2 linked regions of the Homo sapiens genome follow. Changing the gene in region 2 together with the main gene of any one other region gives a genetic interaction. Each region holds a gene or a part of one and is shown on either strand. Other genes may lie near its edges.

Evidence for each region.
Region 1: of IRF2 (region 2) and PRDM1, changing one suppresses a phenotype caused by changing the other (phenotypic suppression), as found in Homo sapiens cells (one study listed by BioGRID).

The regions. Positions count from the first base shown.
Region 1 is NC_000006.12:106,081,478-106,089,540, forward strand, and holds the start of PRDM1 (PR domain zinc finger protein 1), read left to right. Parts: upstream 1-4,858; 5' UTR 4,859-5,076; coding exon 5,077-5,118; intron 5,119-6,276; exon of another isoform or gene 6,277-6,369; coding exon of another isoform or gene 6,370-6,453; intron 6,454-6,723; coding exon 6,724-6,972; intron 6,973-8,063. UniProt on the Homo sapiens protein: Transcription factor that mediates a transcriptional program in various innate and adaptive immune tissue-resident lymphocyte T cell types such as tissue-resident memory T (Trm), natural killer (trNK) and natural killer T (NKT) cells and negatively regulates gene expression of proteins that promote the egress of tissue-resident T-cell populations from non-lymphoid organs.
Region 2 is NC_000004.12:184,464,354-184,471,626, forward strand, and holds part of IRF2 (interferon regulatory factor 2), read right to left. Parts: intron 1-7,273. UniProt on the Homo sapiens protein: Specifically binds to the upstream regulatory region of type I IFN and IFN-inducible MHC class I genes (the interferon consensus sequence (ICS)) and represses those genes. Also acts as an activator for several genes including H4 and IL7.

The sequences.
Region 1 (8,063 bases), on a different chromosome or scaffold from region 2:
GATGCCCTTTCTGCTTCCTGACCTCTGGTCCTCAGTTTCCTCAGCAGGAAAATGAAGTGTAGAAGGGGATATATGGTCTTCGACTTAGATTGGATACTAAATCCCCTTTGGAGCAGAATGGGAGTTGGGGGCTGGGGGTGGTCAAATGATTTCACTATTAACCTTTATGATTCTGTCTCTTCTATCCTAACTTACCTTGGCGTGAAGAAAGTCAAGCCTCTACAGTCTTGTTCTTCCCTTAGAAAGGATGAGAAGAAATCGTCAGTCCCATTTTAAATAAAATCACCTGTGTCCTTTGGTTAATATTCTGTGATTTCAGGGAAGCACACGGTGGCAGGTACAACTGTAGGGTCCCTTTTCCTCTTCCAAGGGGACTGCTCCTCCCTGCACTGGGTCTTCTGCTGCTGTTCCTGCTCATCCTCCATAGAAGCCTTTCACCTTCATTTTTAAGCCAACTGGTCCTCCCTAATCTTATTCTTGGCGACCTTCCCTTTATTTCCACCTTGAGTCCTCCCCTCTTCCAGAATGGCTTCTCCTCCCACTGAAAGGTGAGAGAAGCAAACATTTGACCCACAGTCTTGCTCTCTCATTTGTGTGGAAGCTACTCTTCCGGTTCTCCAAATAAAGACAAGAGATGAGTTTCAGAGTGGACACCTTTCCTATTGCTCTTTTTCTCCCTTGTTAACAGTTCAGGTTTTGCCTTCTGTTAGTTTAATTTTAGGATTATTCCTTTTTTCCCACCAGCTGTAAGGTTAGGAAGTGTCTTCTGAGTTCTGAAATAATCTTCCTTCTCCTGTTCTTTCCCACAGACTTCTCAGAAATTAAAATTCTTCTGTCTGAATATTCACTATGATAAAAATATAATTAGAAGGGAAAGCAAATTTTGGAAACCCCAAACCTTGGTTTCCCCACAAGTCATCTGGAAATGATTAGTATTGCTATTATCATTTATTAAGTTGGTAGATGCTGAACTAAAGGAATAGTTTAAAAAATAATTTTAAAATCATATATAAATGATTAGATGAGAATACAACTGTCTTTCTGAAGGGAGGGCTAAAAAAGATATTAATACTTAGATGTAATGATACAGGTGGTTCTATAAATACTCTGAGACCTTGGACATCCTGTGGGTTTTATAAAGTCCTCTGGAGAACACTTACATCTTCATTCCTAGGGTGGGAAGGGAGCTCTACTTGTGTTCTTGAATTTACTTAATTTTTGTTTCCCTTATGTAGGAAGTCAAAACACTGACCTCATTCCAAAACATCCAACAGCCCCTGAAGGTCACCGTCCCAATGTTTAGGCCCTGAATATGTTTGTCAAAAGTTTTTGGGAGGTGAGCTGTGTCATGAGAAGGAAGCTTGTGCTATTTTTAAATTGATTCAACTCATCATCGAAACATATCGTACACATATCACACCAATGACACACACAGGCTGCATTGTAACATAGCATGTGTCATACATATATTCTCTCTCACTCATACACACATACTCGCTCTTCTTGTCCGGCTTTTAAAAAGGAAGGCAGCCAGAAGGCCAAGCCCAGTGATTTGAGTTGAAAAGGCTGTTAAAGTTTAAAAACCAAGTGTCCCTCTAGTTCTCAGCCTGGCTTTGAGACATGTGGGAGGGCTTCAAAGCCTCAGTGCCCCTCTCTCAGGCTCAGGCTTACAGTTGGTCCCCAAATGTTTACCAGCATGAAGATGCCTAACTTACAGGAAGCGGGAAATGGGTGTGGGGGGTGAGGGTGGGTGGGTGGTAGGGAGTAGGAAGAAGAGGGTGGGGGGGTTATTCTCTTGATGTGGTTAGCCTGTCATTGACCTTGTTTGGGTATGGCAGGAGTTGAATGAGAAAATGAAAACATGTTTCATCTTGGGTACATTTCATCCCTTTTTTTTACCTTAGGAAAAAAAAGTTCCTTTCGAAAAAAAAAATTTTTTTTCCCCAAGTGGAGTTCAGGTCTCCAGATTTGGTGCTCAATTTCCCTTCATTCTACAATAGTCCTTTCCCTATAGAGTCATCTGGCCACCAACATTGCAATTCCCAATCCACCCAGGAACTGGGAGAGGAAAAAAACTGGCCCAGTAGCTGAAACCGAATTAAAATTGGCTGATGGAACTGTTGTGATGATGCCATCCACGGGAATAGATGAGAATTTCTGAGAACAGAACTATTTGGCTCATTCATGATTTGCTGCCATTGTGAACACTTTTAATGTGAGAGCTCTGCCTGAGAAATGCTGATTAATAAAGATAACTGAGGTTCTTTTCGGTGTTCTAACTTGGGGGGAAATAATATAGTGACTAAAAATGCACCAAGTTATTACTTAGAAACAAACCCTTTGAGACATAAGATTCCAGACAGTGGCAGCCTCTGATAGCTCTCTCTGCACAGCTGTACTGCTGCCAGGGTCTCCCAGCTTTAGTCAGCAGTAAAAAGGTGCACTGCTCAGGCCCTCTGGGAGGACCGAGTGAAGTTCAGAGGTCAGTCCCTTTTATTCCCCCTTAATGGTTTTGTGCTGGACAATACCTAAATATTACAATATGGACATGTTTTTTCCTATTATGGAGCAAGCTTCCTTTCTTTTATTTCTTCTTCCTTTTTGGTAGCTTTCATTTTAAATGATGATATCCATCATTGACTACTATAATCATAGTCAAAAGTTGGTTTGGAGGTTTTTTTTTTCCCAATCACTTTGAGACAAGAAGCAAACATGTGAAGGACTTTACATTCCAACACTCTGTGTCTGAAAATTTACTTTCCTTAAAGTTCTACCCGTGGCCTTGTCCAGCTCAGCTGGGACACCTGGAACTAATTTTAGGGTTGCCTGGCTAAGCCCCACACTGGTATTTGAAGTTTGCGTCCTCCCTAGACTCAAGCCCATTTCACCACCTCTGAAGGTGAGTGCAGGCTGATATTAATTAACAGTGAGTTGATTCACTGGCATCTTCCAGTCATTAAAGCAAATATTTGGCTTAAAATAGCCTTCTTCCCACCTCAAATATCAAACTTTTTGCCTATTCCCTTACTCTATCATGGTTGACTCACCAGCAGTTGCATGATGGTGTATGTGGCCTAAGAACAGAGTTTGATTCTAAAAGGGAAGTGAAATACTCTTTAACATCTGCAAGTGAGACTGTTTGAACAGCAGGCCAGCCTTCAGTATGACTACATTGTTTTTCTGTCCATTGTGGTGCTGACTCAGCATCAGTTAATAAACCCTCTTGAGCAGGCTGGATTTCTCTTGTTTAATTATCAGCTTGGAGCTTTCTGAGGACTCTTAGGAATTGTTCATTCAGTTTTCCACCCCCAGCAGATCTGCCTTCTAAAAGTCCTGCTTCCTCTTGGTGCTAGCGTCCCCTCTGGCATAACATGCAATCACAGGTGGGCCACGCAGCAAGCAGCGAGTGTGTGCTAATCATGTCCCCTAGTGGGAATTTAATTGTTCTGTACTGAGAGAGAGATTGCAGCAAGACTTTAGACACCATTTCCTGGCAAATAATCTTTTGCCTCTCCCCCTCTCCCCTAAAAAAAATTCTAGAAAAGTTTTCTAAAAGTGAGAAAAGAAATTTTAAAGATAAACAGACATATTTTTTAGGATTGAGTTGGGCTTTTGTTTTGCTTTGTTTCATTTCTTCCTGTAAACAAATACTCAGATGTCCATTTCATTGTATGACTAAGTTGGTATCATTAGGTTGGAACTGGGTGTGTGTATGTGGGTGTGTGTGTGGGTGGATGTGTGTGCACACGTGTATTTAAAATGTTAGAAAAGACATTGCAGGTCGAAGGAGAAATGATTTTAAAAAAACCTACCTATGGTAAGGCAAGCAGGAAAAATGGAAGACCTGGATTTCAATGATCTAAATAATAATTGAAATGGGGTGTTTGCTATAAACATTGTTTCTCTGAATTAAAGGATTCCTTGCTGAAGGCACAAGACCATTGAAGGAAGTAAAGCATCTGGTTTGTTTTGTAATGAGAAGCAGGAATGCAAGGTCCACGCTCTTAATAATAAACAAACAGGACATTGTATGCCATCATCACAGGATGTCCTTCCTTCAACAGAGGACTGACTGGGCTGGAGGAAAAGCTGGCCGGGGCTCAGAATAAGCCCCACTAATTACTGCCTCCGACCGCTTTCCACTTGCAGTGATCAGTTCAATATTCCTCTGAACTGTGAAACGACTAATGCTCTACATTTTACTTACACTCCTGGGAAGTCAGCCTGTGGGTTCTGGGAGGAGAGGAAAGGAAAACAAACAATCTGTAGAATTATAACTTTTGCCTATTTCCCTATTTACTAAATAGTTAAAAGAGGAAAGTTAGTTCTGCCAAGTTTGAACGTTAGCAGGAGAAACGGAATGTTACAACTTTTGGGGCGGGGGGCGGGGAAACGTGCGTTACATACACAACAGCTTGAGGACCAGACAGCTCCACTGTATTACACTAGCTGCAAAAACAATTTAACTTGCTCTTTTGAAGTAAGATTTGTGTCTTTTGTACCTGGGGATTTGAGCTGAGAAATCAGAAACTGTGTAGGTAAATTTTAAGTTTCCTTAATTTAAGGAACGTGCGCCCCCTAATTCTGCCGCGCCAGGAAGGAGGGCGATCTGGAGTGTTTAGAATACAATAGAGCCCAAGTAAGCGTTGAGGTTAAGTGCCTTCAAAGGGAAGTAAGAAGATTCCAAGTCAATGTTGAAATACACATGCGAAGAGAGGAAGCTCTCGGCGGCTGTGCTAGCAATCTGGGGGAAAGCCCTGGGCTCGGCCAGGTGGTGTTGGCCACGTTGGCCACGCCCCCACTTCGCGCAGCCGAGTGGCTAAGGAAATCTTAAGCAGGGAGGGGAAGCCAGACGGTTAACACAGACAAAGTGCTGCCGTGACACTCGGCCCTCCAGTGTTGCGGAGAGGCAAGAGCAGCGACCGCGGCACCTGTCCGCCCGGAGCTGGGACGCGGGCGCCCGGGCGGCCGGACGAAGCGAGGAGGGACCGCCGAGGTGCGCGTCTGTGCGGCTCAGCCTGGCGGGGGACGCGGGGAGAATGTGGACTGGGTAGAGATGAACGAGACTTTTCTCAGATGTTGGATATTTGCTTGGAAAAACGTGTGGGTACGACCTTGGTAAGGAACTTGAATTTTTTTTTTTTAATTCTGAAATTGATCTGAAAACTTTATTTTCTTTTCCTTTATTGTTATTATTATTAATTTTTTTTGGCTAATGTCGCAGTAGAAACATGCTTCTGCTTTAGTGCACTTAGTGCTGTCAAACATTTGTGAGACTTTCCTTATGAATCATTAACCCTTTCAGTTCTAGACATAATTGCCAATTCATTGAAATTTCAGTAGTGGTTCCAGCTCACACTCGTCAAACTATTCCGGGTTGGCTGAAGTTTTCTATTTTATTTTATTTTTAACATGTGTTTGGCGTCATGACTCTACATGTTGGAACTAAATAAAAATAAGCAGGTTTGCTTAAATCATAACTGAGGGAAAAACAACTTTGCATCCAACTTTTTTTTTTTTAAGAGCATCCTATTTAGAGAAGTGGAAGAATGTAAAAACCTCCTTGAAGGACTTCCACAGAATGTTATGTTTACATTTGAACAAACACACATTCTTACATGGAAATGATACCCATATTCCTCATTTTTATCAAACATGTCTATATGAGAAAACCCTTACAGAAGTTGTTTACCTTTTTTTGCCTTTGGAAAACAGTTTTTTTCTGAGTGTGAGGGAGGATTTTGGGGGAATATCCTCATCAATGTACAAGTGGAAGCAGAGCTTGTCCTCCAAGTCTTCTAAATTTGTTATAACTTTAGTTACAGTAAACTGTAGTACATCAGTGACTTCTGGGAATTCATACACTTTCAGATTTAAATGGAAAGTGCTATTTGTAGCTGAGGACTCCTAAAGGAATTCTCTCCAGGGAATTTTATTAAACGGTTTTATGTTTTGTTTTTGCCTTTTCAATTTGGTATGAGATGCTTGCAAGTCAGAAGACACTGCAGGCTGTTTTCCCCTTCACCCATTTTTCCTCCTCTTTTCCTGTGGTCCAAGTGATTTCTAAGAGGCCGTAGCTCAGTGATGCTGGCAGGATGCAACCCTTTTCAGTCTTCCATGTGAGAGGATGAAAGAGAGCTCGCAGCAGAGGGAGGAGGCAGTTGTTTTGAAAGTTGTTTTGCGTTGGGAGCTGGTGGGAAAGTTCGGTCTTCCCCATTTGGAAAAGGCAGGCTGGGTTCCGCTCCTGCACCACACGCGCTTTCCATTTTTAGCTTCATTCAGAGGCAGACAGAGCTCCTTCCTCTTCCTCTCCTTGTTTGTGACACTTTTCTGAGGCAGCTTTTCCACAGTGCCGAGGGTCTGGCGGCCATGACCCCAGGCATTCTGGGACACTGGACTGTGTGCCCAGAACATTTTTCTGCCATGAGAGGTAAAGCCAGGGATTGTTCAGAGGTGATTCTTTTTTTTTTTTTCCTTTTCCCCACAGTGAGGTTGCCACATTCTTTTTTTTTTTTTTTTTTTTAACTAAGAGTAGCATTTAAAAACCTTGCTTCTTTTCAAGGCAGTTTACTTTATACGGCTTCTTGGCTCTTTCTCAACTGTACCAAGCACTCTGCATCTGCTTTTAAAGTCTTCAGACTACTGTATTAGTCATAGCCTCTCAGAAGGAGCCACAGGAACGGCGGGACAATGGGGATTAAAGGCCTTTCCTTTCTCTTCCAGGCTGCCCCCAAGTGTAACTCCAGCACTGTGAGGTTTCAGGGATTGGCAGAGGGGACCAAGGGGACCATGAAAATGGACATGGAGGATGCGGATATGACTCTGTGGACAGAGGCTGAGTTTGAAGAGAAGTGTACATACATTGTGAACGACCACCCCTGGGATTCTGGTGCTGATGGCGGTACTTCGGTTCAGGCGGAGGCATCCTTACCAAGGAATCTGCTTTTCAAGTATGCCACCAACAGTGAAGAGGTAAGCCTCTGGTTTATTGACAAGAAGATTGGGGACCTGGTGCCAAATCTCCCTACTTGCCCTTGAGGCCTTGTATATCTCTGAAAACCTCTGAGAATCTGTAAGTATCAGTAAATAATTGATTGCTCTATTCAATTCTTGCATTGCTTTCTCTTTCCCTAAACCATTTCCTTCTCATTTCTTCCAGCCTTCAACTGTTCCTCACTAATTAGTAAACAGTTAAATATTTTGGCAAATTGGCATGTCTTAGAAAAGCAACTTGCAGCATAGGGTGGGTGAAATTGTCAGTGAACTTCAAGAAAGCTCTGGGCCCACTGGCCCTAGTGTCCCTGTTGTACAATATCTCTTAAGGGAGAAAACTTTTTCTTGGAAAAAAAAGTTTTAATATTTCTTTTGTCTGTCTTTGGTAATTAGTTGGCTTTACTCTTTTTAACAAGCCAGCTTTATTAGCTGGGTTTCTAAAACTATCCTCAAAACTTTGACGTGTTTATGAAGTGAAGTGATGGTATAAGCCGAGAAAGGGGGTCATGTAAAAGTGTCCTCTGTCTGGATGACTTCAGAGCTAACCACTGTTTATCTGCAGCAGCTCCTTTGCTGGGGCTGGGCTGGCAGGCCAATTCCTTACTGGCCTCTGAAGTGGGTACACTCTTTGTTGTTTCAAAGGGGATGAAAACCCAAACTTGGAATGAGCAACTGATTTGTGTTTACCTTTAATATAAAGATTATAGCTAGGCGTGATGTTTAGCTGTGAAATAACTTGCAGAACCACCTCTTGTTTTCAGAATTTGGCTTACTGTAGTTGCACTTACTAGTCTACTACTGGGTTGAGTTGAATGAAAGGACCCCTCAGCAGACTTCCCATACCACCATTAGCACAGAGCACTGTCAATTCTATTACTTCCTTCAGAAAGTAGGGAAAGGGGATGGTTGGCCGTAGAAATCCAGAATTTGCTACTGGGACTATTCCTTACAGCCGTGTCAAATCACTTTCCCCCTTCCCTAAGGAACAGTATTTGAAGGAATCCGGGAGACTAGGAAATGCTTTGTCTCTTTCCTGTTTGTGTGTCTGAGTCCAGTGTTTTTGGTGAGGG
Region 2 (7,273 bases):
TAGGACCATATATGACATGAAGGTAGGGAATGTATAGGATAGGGAATGTATGGGATATGAATATAGGAGCCATATAGGATATGAAAATAGCGACTGTATAGCATATGAAGATAGGGAATGTACAGGACATGAAGATAGGGACTATACAGGACATGAAGACAGGGAATGTTCACTCTCACTTCCCCTACAAACATTTTATACTTCACTTACCATGAGAATTAGATCTGTAGCCATTTGTGTACATTAAATGCTCTTTTCCAAAAGGATAATAAAACCTCTAATCTCCTCAAGAGGACCAAATAATTTCACCTTGGTTCCCAAGGTGCTGGGAAGACGTATCTCCCTAGGCATGTGTATTTCAAAAAGCATGAAAAACAGACCTTGGAGACATCCCCAGGTTACAAGTGTCTCACATTCTGAAAGGTTAGGATAAGACCCCTGGAACCTTTTCATCCCATGTCAGGGGAGCTAAGGTGTTTGTCTGTTTGGTTTTCCTTTTTCTTCTTCTTTTTTTTTTCTCTCTCTCTCCTTTTGGGACGGGAGAGGGACAGCTGCTCTGTCCCTGTCAACAAAGTGTAGCCCACATGTACATTCCATTAGTTTTCAGTGTCACCTAAGGGTCAAGGTTTAGGGGCCTGACACAATAGTGTCACTCAGGCTGTTGCCCCAGTTGTAAATATCAACAAGGAACTCTTTTCTCCTACCCAGGGGTTTTGTGTTTCTGCAGTATTCATATGTATAAAGAATGTTAACTGTGAAGTGAAATCATATCTCAAGCCCTTCACAGTTACTGACAAAACATTATGTCCCAACCTCACCAAAAAGCCACCAATCTAAGTGTCTCCAAGTAGCCACAGCTGTCTGAGGACAAAGGCTTCCAAGAGCCTGGCCAGGAAAGCCCTGGCTCTAGAGCCTGCTCCACACATGGAGGCAGAAAGGCTCGAGAATGGCCCCGTCCATGCACAGCCTCCTCCTCGGCAGCACCCAGTGTGTTTTTCCTAACCTTACGTGGACCAGAGGTGAGGGCAGAGATGACATATTAGCACTCTCTTGAGAATATTTTTCTGGTTAAAAGGGTAATTGGTAATTGTGCTTGCTGTTTTAAATTTGGAAAATACAAAAATGTTTCAAGAAGGAAAAAAAAAGCCAAACACCCACAATTTCACCATCAAAAAGATATGTTTTCTTCCAGGTTTTTAAAAATACCCCAATATACACATATGTTTTAAAAATAAAACTAGAAGCACAATTTCATATCCTTTTTTCCCCACCCAATCAGCATAGATCATAAATATTTTCCCATCACTAAACGCTGCTCGAAAACACGAGCTTTATAAGCTACCTATAGTCTGTCTGGATGTGCCGTAATTCGTTCAAATGTGTCTCTATTGTTGGATATTTAGCTTGTTTCCAAGTTTTTACATAACAAAAGCTAATTCAATAAACATCCGTGTACATACATCTTTGTTCCCATCTCTGGTTACTTCACGTAAGTAGGTTCCAAGAAGCAGAATTTCTGGAACAGAGAGCTTAACATTTTTAAGACTTTAAGTATATAGCACCAAGGTAAATTCCAGAAAGTTTATTTCAATGTAGAATCCTGACTACAGTCACTGTGGAGTACTCAGTGCCCCACTCAGTGACCCACACTACCCACTTATGGAATTCATAGTTCAGTTTTAACTTGTCCCATCTGGTTGTTTTTTGTTTTTTGTTTTTTTTTTGAGATGAAGTCTCACGCTTGTCACCCAAGCTGGTGCGATCTCGGCTCACTGCAACCTCCGCCGCCTGGGTTCAAGCGATTCTCCTGCCTCAGCCTCCCGAGTAGCTGGGACTACAGGTGCCCGCCACCATGCCCAGCTAATTTTTGTATTTTTAGTAGAGACGGGGTTTCACCATGTTGGCCAGGCTGATCTTGAACTCCTGACCTCAGGAAATCCGCCCGCCTCGGCCTCCCAAAGTGCTGGGATTACAGGCGTGAGCCACCGCGCACGGCCAATCCCATCTGTTCTTTAGGAAAACACATTATCAGCCCATTCTATTTCCCTGATTCCATATTTACCTCCCACAATCTCAATAGCACAATTACATTGATTTATCATTACAAATTACAAATATGAATGCATTAAATTATTACATGTGCCCTGAAAATACATACATCTATTATGTATTATTTCAAGAGTTTAAAAATAAAATAAAACAGTACCAAGGAAGATCAGTACGGGGGGAGAAGGCCTAAGAGAGCTATTACCGTATTTCCGTGGTTGCCTCCAAAGGCAATTTTAGATTGAGTTTGGGGCCTCACATAGTGAGTATCAGTTTCCCCATCCCCAAACAATGCATCAACATCAGCACACTTATACATTCTGAGAAATGCACCATTAAGCAATTTTGTCATTGTGTGAACATCACAGAGTGTACTTACACAAACCTACATGGTATAACCTCCTACACACCCAGGTTTATGGTATGGCCTATGGCTTCCAGGCTGCAAACATGTACTGCAGGTTACTGTACTGAGGACCGTAGGCCACTGTAGCACAATGGCAAGTATCTGTGTATCTAAACATAGCAAAAGGTAAAAGTATGATATTATCATCTTATGGGGCCACAGTCATGTGTATGGCCCATTGATGACCTAAACGTTGTGATGCAGCAACATCACTGTACCCTAAGGTGACTTCAGCCATGTCCAAGTGACAACTACTCACAACTTCATGTTTCCTGGTGGTATAATGTCAGCAGCTGCCTAGCAGTTTTCCCATCAGCCTTTCTCATCCCCAGGATAAAAGGATCTGATCCCACAGTCAGCAGTGGAGGGTCCTCCAGTCTTTCAACTGGTCCTTGAGTTATCACTAATTGCCTAACCAACTTCACCTCACCCCTCCGATCTCTAAAACTCTTTCAGTGACATTTATGCAAAGACAGAAAATCTCCCTGCCTGATTGTCTCTTCACTCTCTCCCATTCAAGAATCCAGGAGTCACTAGTCACCTATTTTCCTTCTCATCACCCCATCCCCCAACTCTCACTTTCCACCAGCCTCCCATTGCTATCCTTTCACCCGACACACCCATCATATCTAGGTGTTAAGACACTCTTATCACCACTGTAATTTTTCTCATCTTTTCCAATAGATCTAGGGTAAAAAGGACAAAAGAATTCTTTCAAAAATAACATGGTAGATATTACTTGAAATAAAGCAATTTGTATGCAGTCCCTCCTCATCTGAAAGGTCAATCTCATGAAATGGGAAAATTGGTAGGATTCTAAGCTTAGGGGGCCAGGACAGCGTATTCTGTCTACAGAGTACTTCTTTGGATCTTCCCAAAATCTGACATTCATAAGAACAATTAAAATGTACACTCAATAAGAACAAATTAAAGTGTATACTCATCTCTCCTTTGATGGCATTAGGTGTGCGAGTATCAAATGCCTTCAGCAGATAGCAACAGTGTTAAGTATGCCCAAATGAAATTATTTATGAAAATCACACAGCAAGTAGTTAATTCTCAAAAATCGTCATTTAATGAAAACAGGACAGGCTTTTATCACACAAAATCCTAAATTAAGGTATTTTGCTGAACTAAATTAGTCTTGCCTTTGGGATAAAAATACTTAGAATCCATCATCAGAAGGAACCTCACACACCTGCTTCTCATCTGCAGCCATTCTTTGTCAACTCCGCTCTTTCTTGCTTATCAGAAGGGAATACTAAACTGATAAAGGAGTTATAAACCAAAATAGAAACAAAACAAAACCAAACGCCTAATTCTCCATGGCCTTCCTGGACAAAGAGACAAATACATAAAATAAAATAAAGTCCTTCTTGCCTCTTCAAAATGGAAAACTGGGCTGGGCGCGGTGGCTCACACCTGTAATCCGAATACTTTGGGAGGCTGAGGCGGGCAGATCACCTGAGGTCAGGAGTTCGAGACCAGCCGGCCAACATGGCGAAACCTCATCTCTACTAAAAATACAAAAATTAGCCCGGCGTGGTGGCATATGCCTGTAATCCCAGCTACTCGGGAGGCTGAGGCAGAAGAATCACTTTAACCCAGGAGGCGGAGGTTGCAGTGAGCCGAGATCACACCACTGCCCTCCAGCCCAGGAGACAAGATCGAGACTCTTTCTCAAAAAAGAAAAAAAAAGGAAAATTCAATGTATCACAAACTTAACATGAGTCCCATTTCTGTATGGCAAGCAAGGGCAAGTGGGCAGAGCCAACAGAGTGACCACAGGCCCCTGTCCGAAGTGCTTTTTAAAATGTGGAAAGAGGTTTCATCTGAGCCAAGGAAAAGATCAACTATTTGGCCCTGGGAAGAGATCCTCGATTCAGTGGCTTTCCATTTCTACTCTGGCCACACACCTGAGGGAGGCTGGGGAGCAGGGATCCAATGGTGAATAAGAGGCTCGCTATCAAGGCAGGAAGGGGAAGGAAGGGAAAGGGGGCTACAGATAGTCTCAAATCTAAAAGGTCCCGTGTAATTTCTAAAAGTCCCCTCCCCAGGTGATTTTCACAACACACACAGGTTCTGTCTCCTGAGGATGACAGAATTATCCAGCCACATTTTACAGTGAAAACTTCCAAAGGAGGAAGTGATTGGAGAACTAAAAGGCCACTCTAGGCATCTGAGTTCATGCACCTTCCACCGCAGAGCCTTGTACACAGCTGGCTGTCAAGAAATATTTAATAAACAAATGAAATAATAACACAATGTGTGCATTTAAGAAAACCATTGCATGTGTTACTACATTTAACAAAATCAATTATTCATTTAAAATAATTGCATGGGGTCCCTGGATCCCCAAGCAGACCAAGTTATTGATGGAGGGTCCCGGCTAGTTTCAGTGCCTCAGAAAGCCTAACGGGATGGTGAGTTTCTCTCACACGGAGCCGGCCAGCCTGTCCAACACACCACGGGTCTCTACCTTTGGCTATAATGAGTTCAGTGAGATTTGATGATACCAGTTTTCTCAAGGCAATCAGGAGTTCTGACTGGAAGTCATATGTGTTTCTGAGGAATAAAAATGGGCACTAGGGCCGGGTGCAGTGGCTCACGCCTATAATCCCAGCACTTTGGGATGCTGAGGAGGGAGGATCATTTGAGGCCAAGGGTTTGAGACCAGTCTGGGCAACATAGCGAGACCCCGTCTCTACACAAAAATGTATGTCGGGCTTTGGGGTGGCACATGCCTGTTGTCCCAGCTACTCAGGAGACTGAGGCAGGAGGATCACTTGTGCCCAGGAGTTTGAGCCTGTAGTGAGCTATGATCGAGCCACCGCACTCCAGCCTGGTGGACAGAGTGAGACTTTGACTCTAATAAAAGAAAAAGGATACATGAAGTCTACTTAAATAAACACAATTTGTTTCAGAGACAGTTTGTCATAAGATGGAGCTTCTGAGGGGGAAAATTATTTTTAGGGGATCTTTGAAGGTCAATGCCAAGACTTCAGGCCTGCTGCTTGCTCTGAATCCAACGAGCCTCAGACGGAGTCCCAGGGACAAAGGGGACCTGTGAGCTGTGTTTCCTGCTTGTGTGTTTTCCTTGGTACTCTATAAAAAATACTGTCTTCATGTTCAAATCTGGACCCTATATGTTATTCATCATTCTTTGTTCTTTGTTGATAAATTAAAGTTTGATGGAACTTCCTCACCCACTTTTCCATCAGTCACTCCCGCCACCAGAGCCACTCCTCAATTCAGCACACTGTGCATGAAGCTGGCATCGTGCACCGACCACTGATTACACTCAGGCCAAACACAGGGGGCCGACGGGGCAGGCAGAGACCGAAGGTCCTGACCTCCTACCCCTGTGCAGGAAGGAACATCATGTCTCATACAGATGAAAAGAAGAACTAATTTTTACTAATAATAACTGACATTTCACCGCAGTTTCGTTTATTTGCATATATTACGTATTGTAATATATGTTATAAATATATGCTATCAGTTAATATTTACTTTCATGTATGTTGTCACATATACAGTGTTGGGCACACAGTAAGCATTCAATAAATGCACATGAGCCAAGATGGTAAAGCAGGCCGGCGCAGTGGCTCATGCCTGTAATCCCAGAACTTCAGAAGGCTGAGGTGGGCAGATCACCTGAGGTCAGGAGTTCGAGACAAGCCTGGCCAGCATGCTGAAACCCCGTCTCTACTAAAAATACAAAAATTAGCCAGGCATGGTAGCGCACGCCTGCGCACACCTGTAGTCCCAACTACTCGGGAAGCTGAAGCACAGGAATTGCTTGAACCTGGAAGCAGAGGTTGCGGTGAGCTGAAAGTGTGCCACTGTACACCAGTCTGGGCAACAGAGCAAGACTCTGCCTCAAAAAAAAAAAAAAAGAAAAGAAAAAAAAGGTGGTAAAAGCAAAATACTACAATCAGCCCAGTGCACACCTGCAATGACAGATAATGAAGAAGTTGACACGAGAGTGAAGAAGATTCAGACTAAAGCACAGAGAGGCTTGGGAAGATTTTCTTATCTGACATAAAGAGGGAAAATACATTGGTCCAATCACTGTTATTTCCATATCATTTGGTCTCCATGGATACCACCTAACTTTCCTTCTGACAGGAAAAAATTCACTGACAATATCGGATTCCACTGTGAAATTTTTTTGATACTTTATATAAAAGTTATTCCATGTTTAATCTTTTATCATTATTTATATATGCTCAGAAGTAAAATCCCTCCTTGCTGGAAATTCTATGAGAAAGATAGTGTCTAATCCAGTCATGATTATCTGGCCTTTTTACACTAAGAATAATCTGATATAATTTTGAAAGTTAATGCCTTACACATTTGTAGACTGCCATAATTTATGCAATGTTCTTTCATATACAGTATCTCAATTGTTCATGAAAGCAACACTTACGAGATATAGTTAAAAATTATTATTATCCTCCTTACAGCTAACCCCAAAAGGTAATAACTATATTTTTTGTTGTTAATGGTCAGCTCACTCACCAGAACACAACCTAGTGTAAAGATGCTGTCTTTCTCGCTGTCAGTTGAGTATACAGAGGCTAGCACTGTGTCTGGCTTATAATAGATGTTCTAAGGATATTTATTGAGTGTGTACATAAATTCTCTTGTCTGCGTTAAGCCCTTTTTGGTATAAGGCAGATAAGGGAACTATAACCCAGATACTCCATTTAGATAGAGTACAGTGGTTTTTCACTATCAAAAGGATATTATGTGAAAATGCTCTAAAAACAACAGTTTTGTACGAGATGATGTTAAGAATAAAAATATAACATCGTT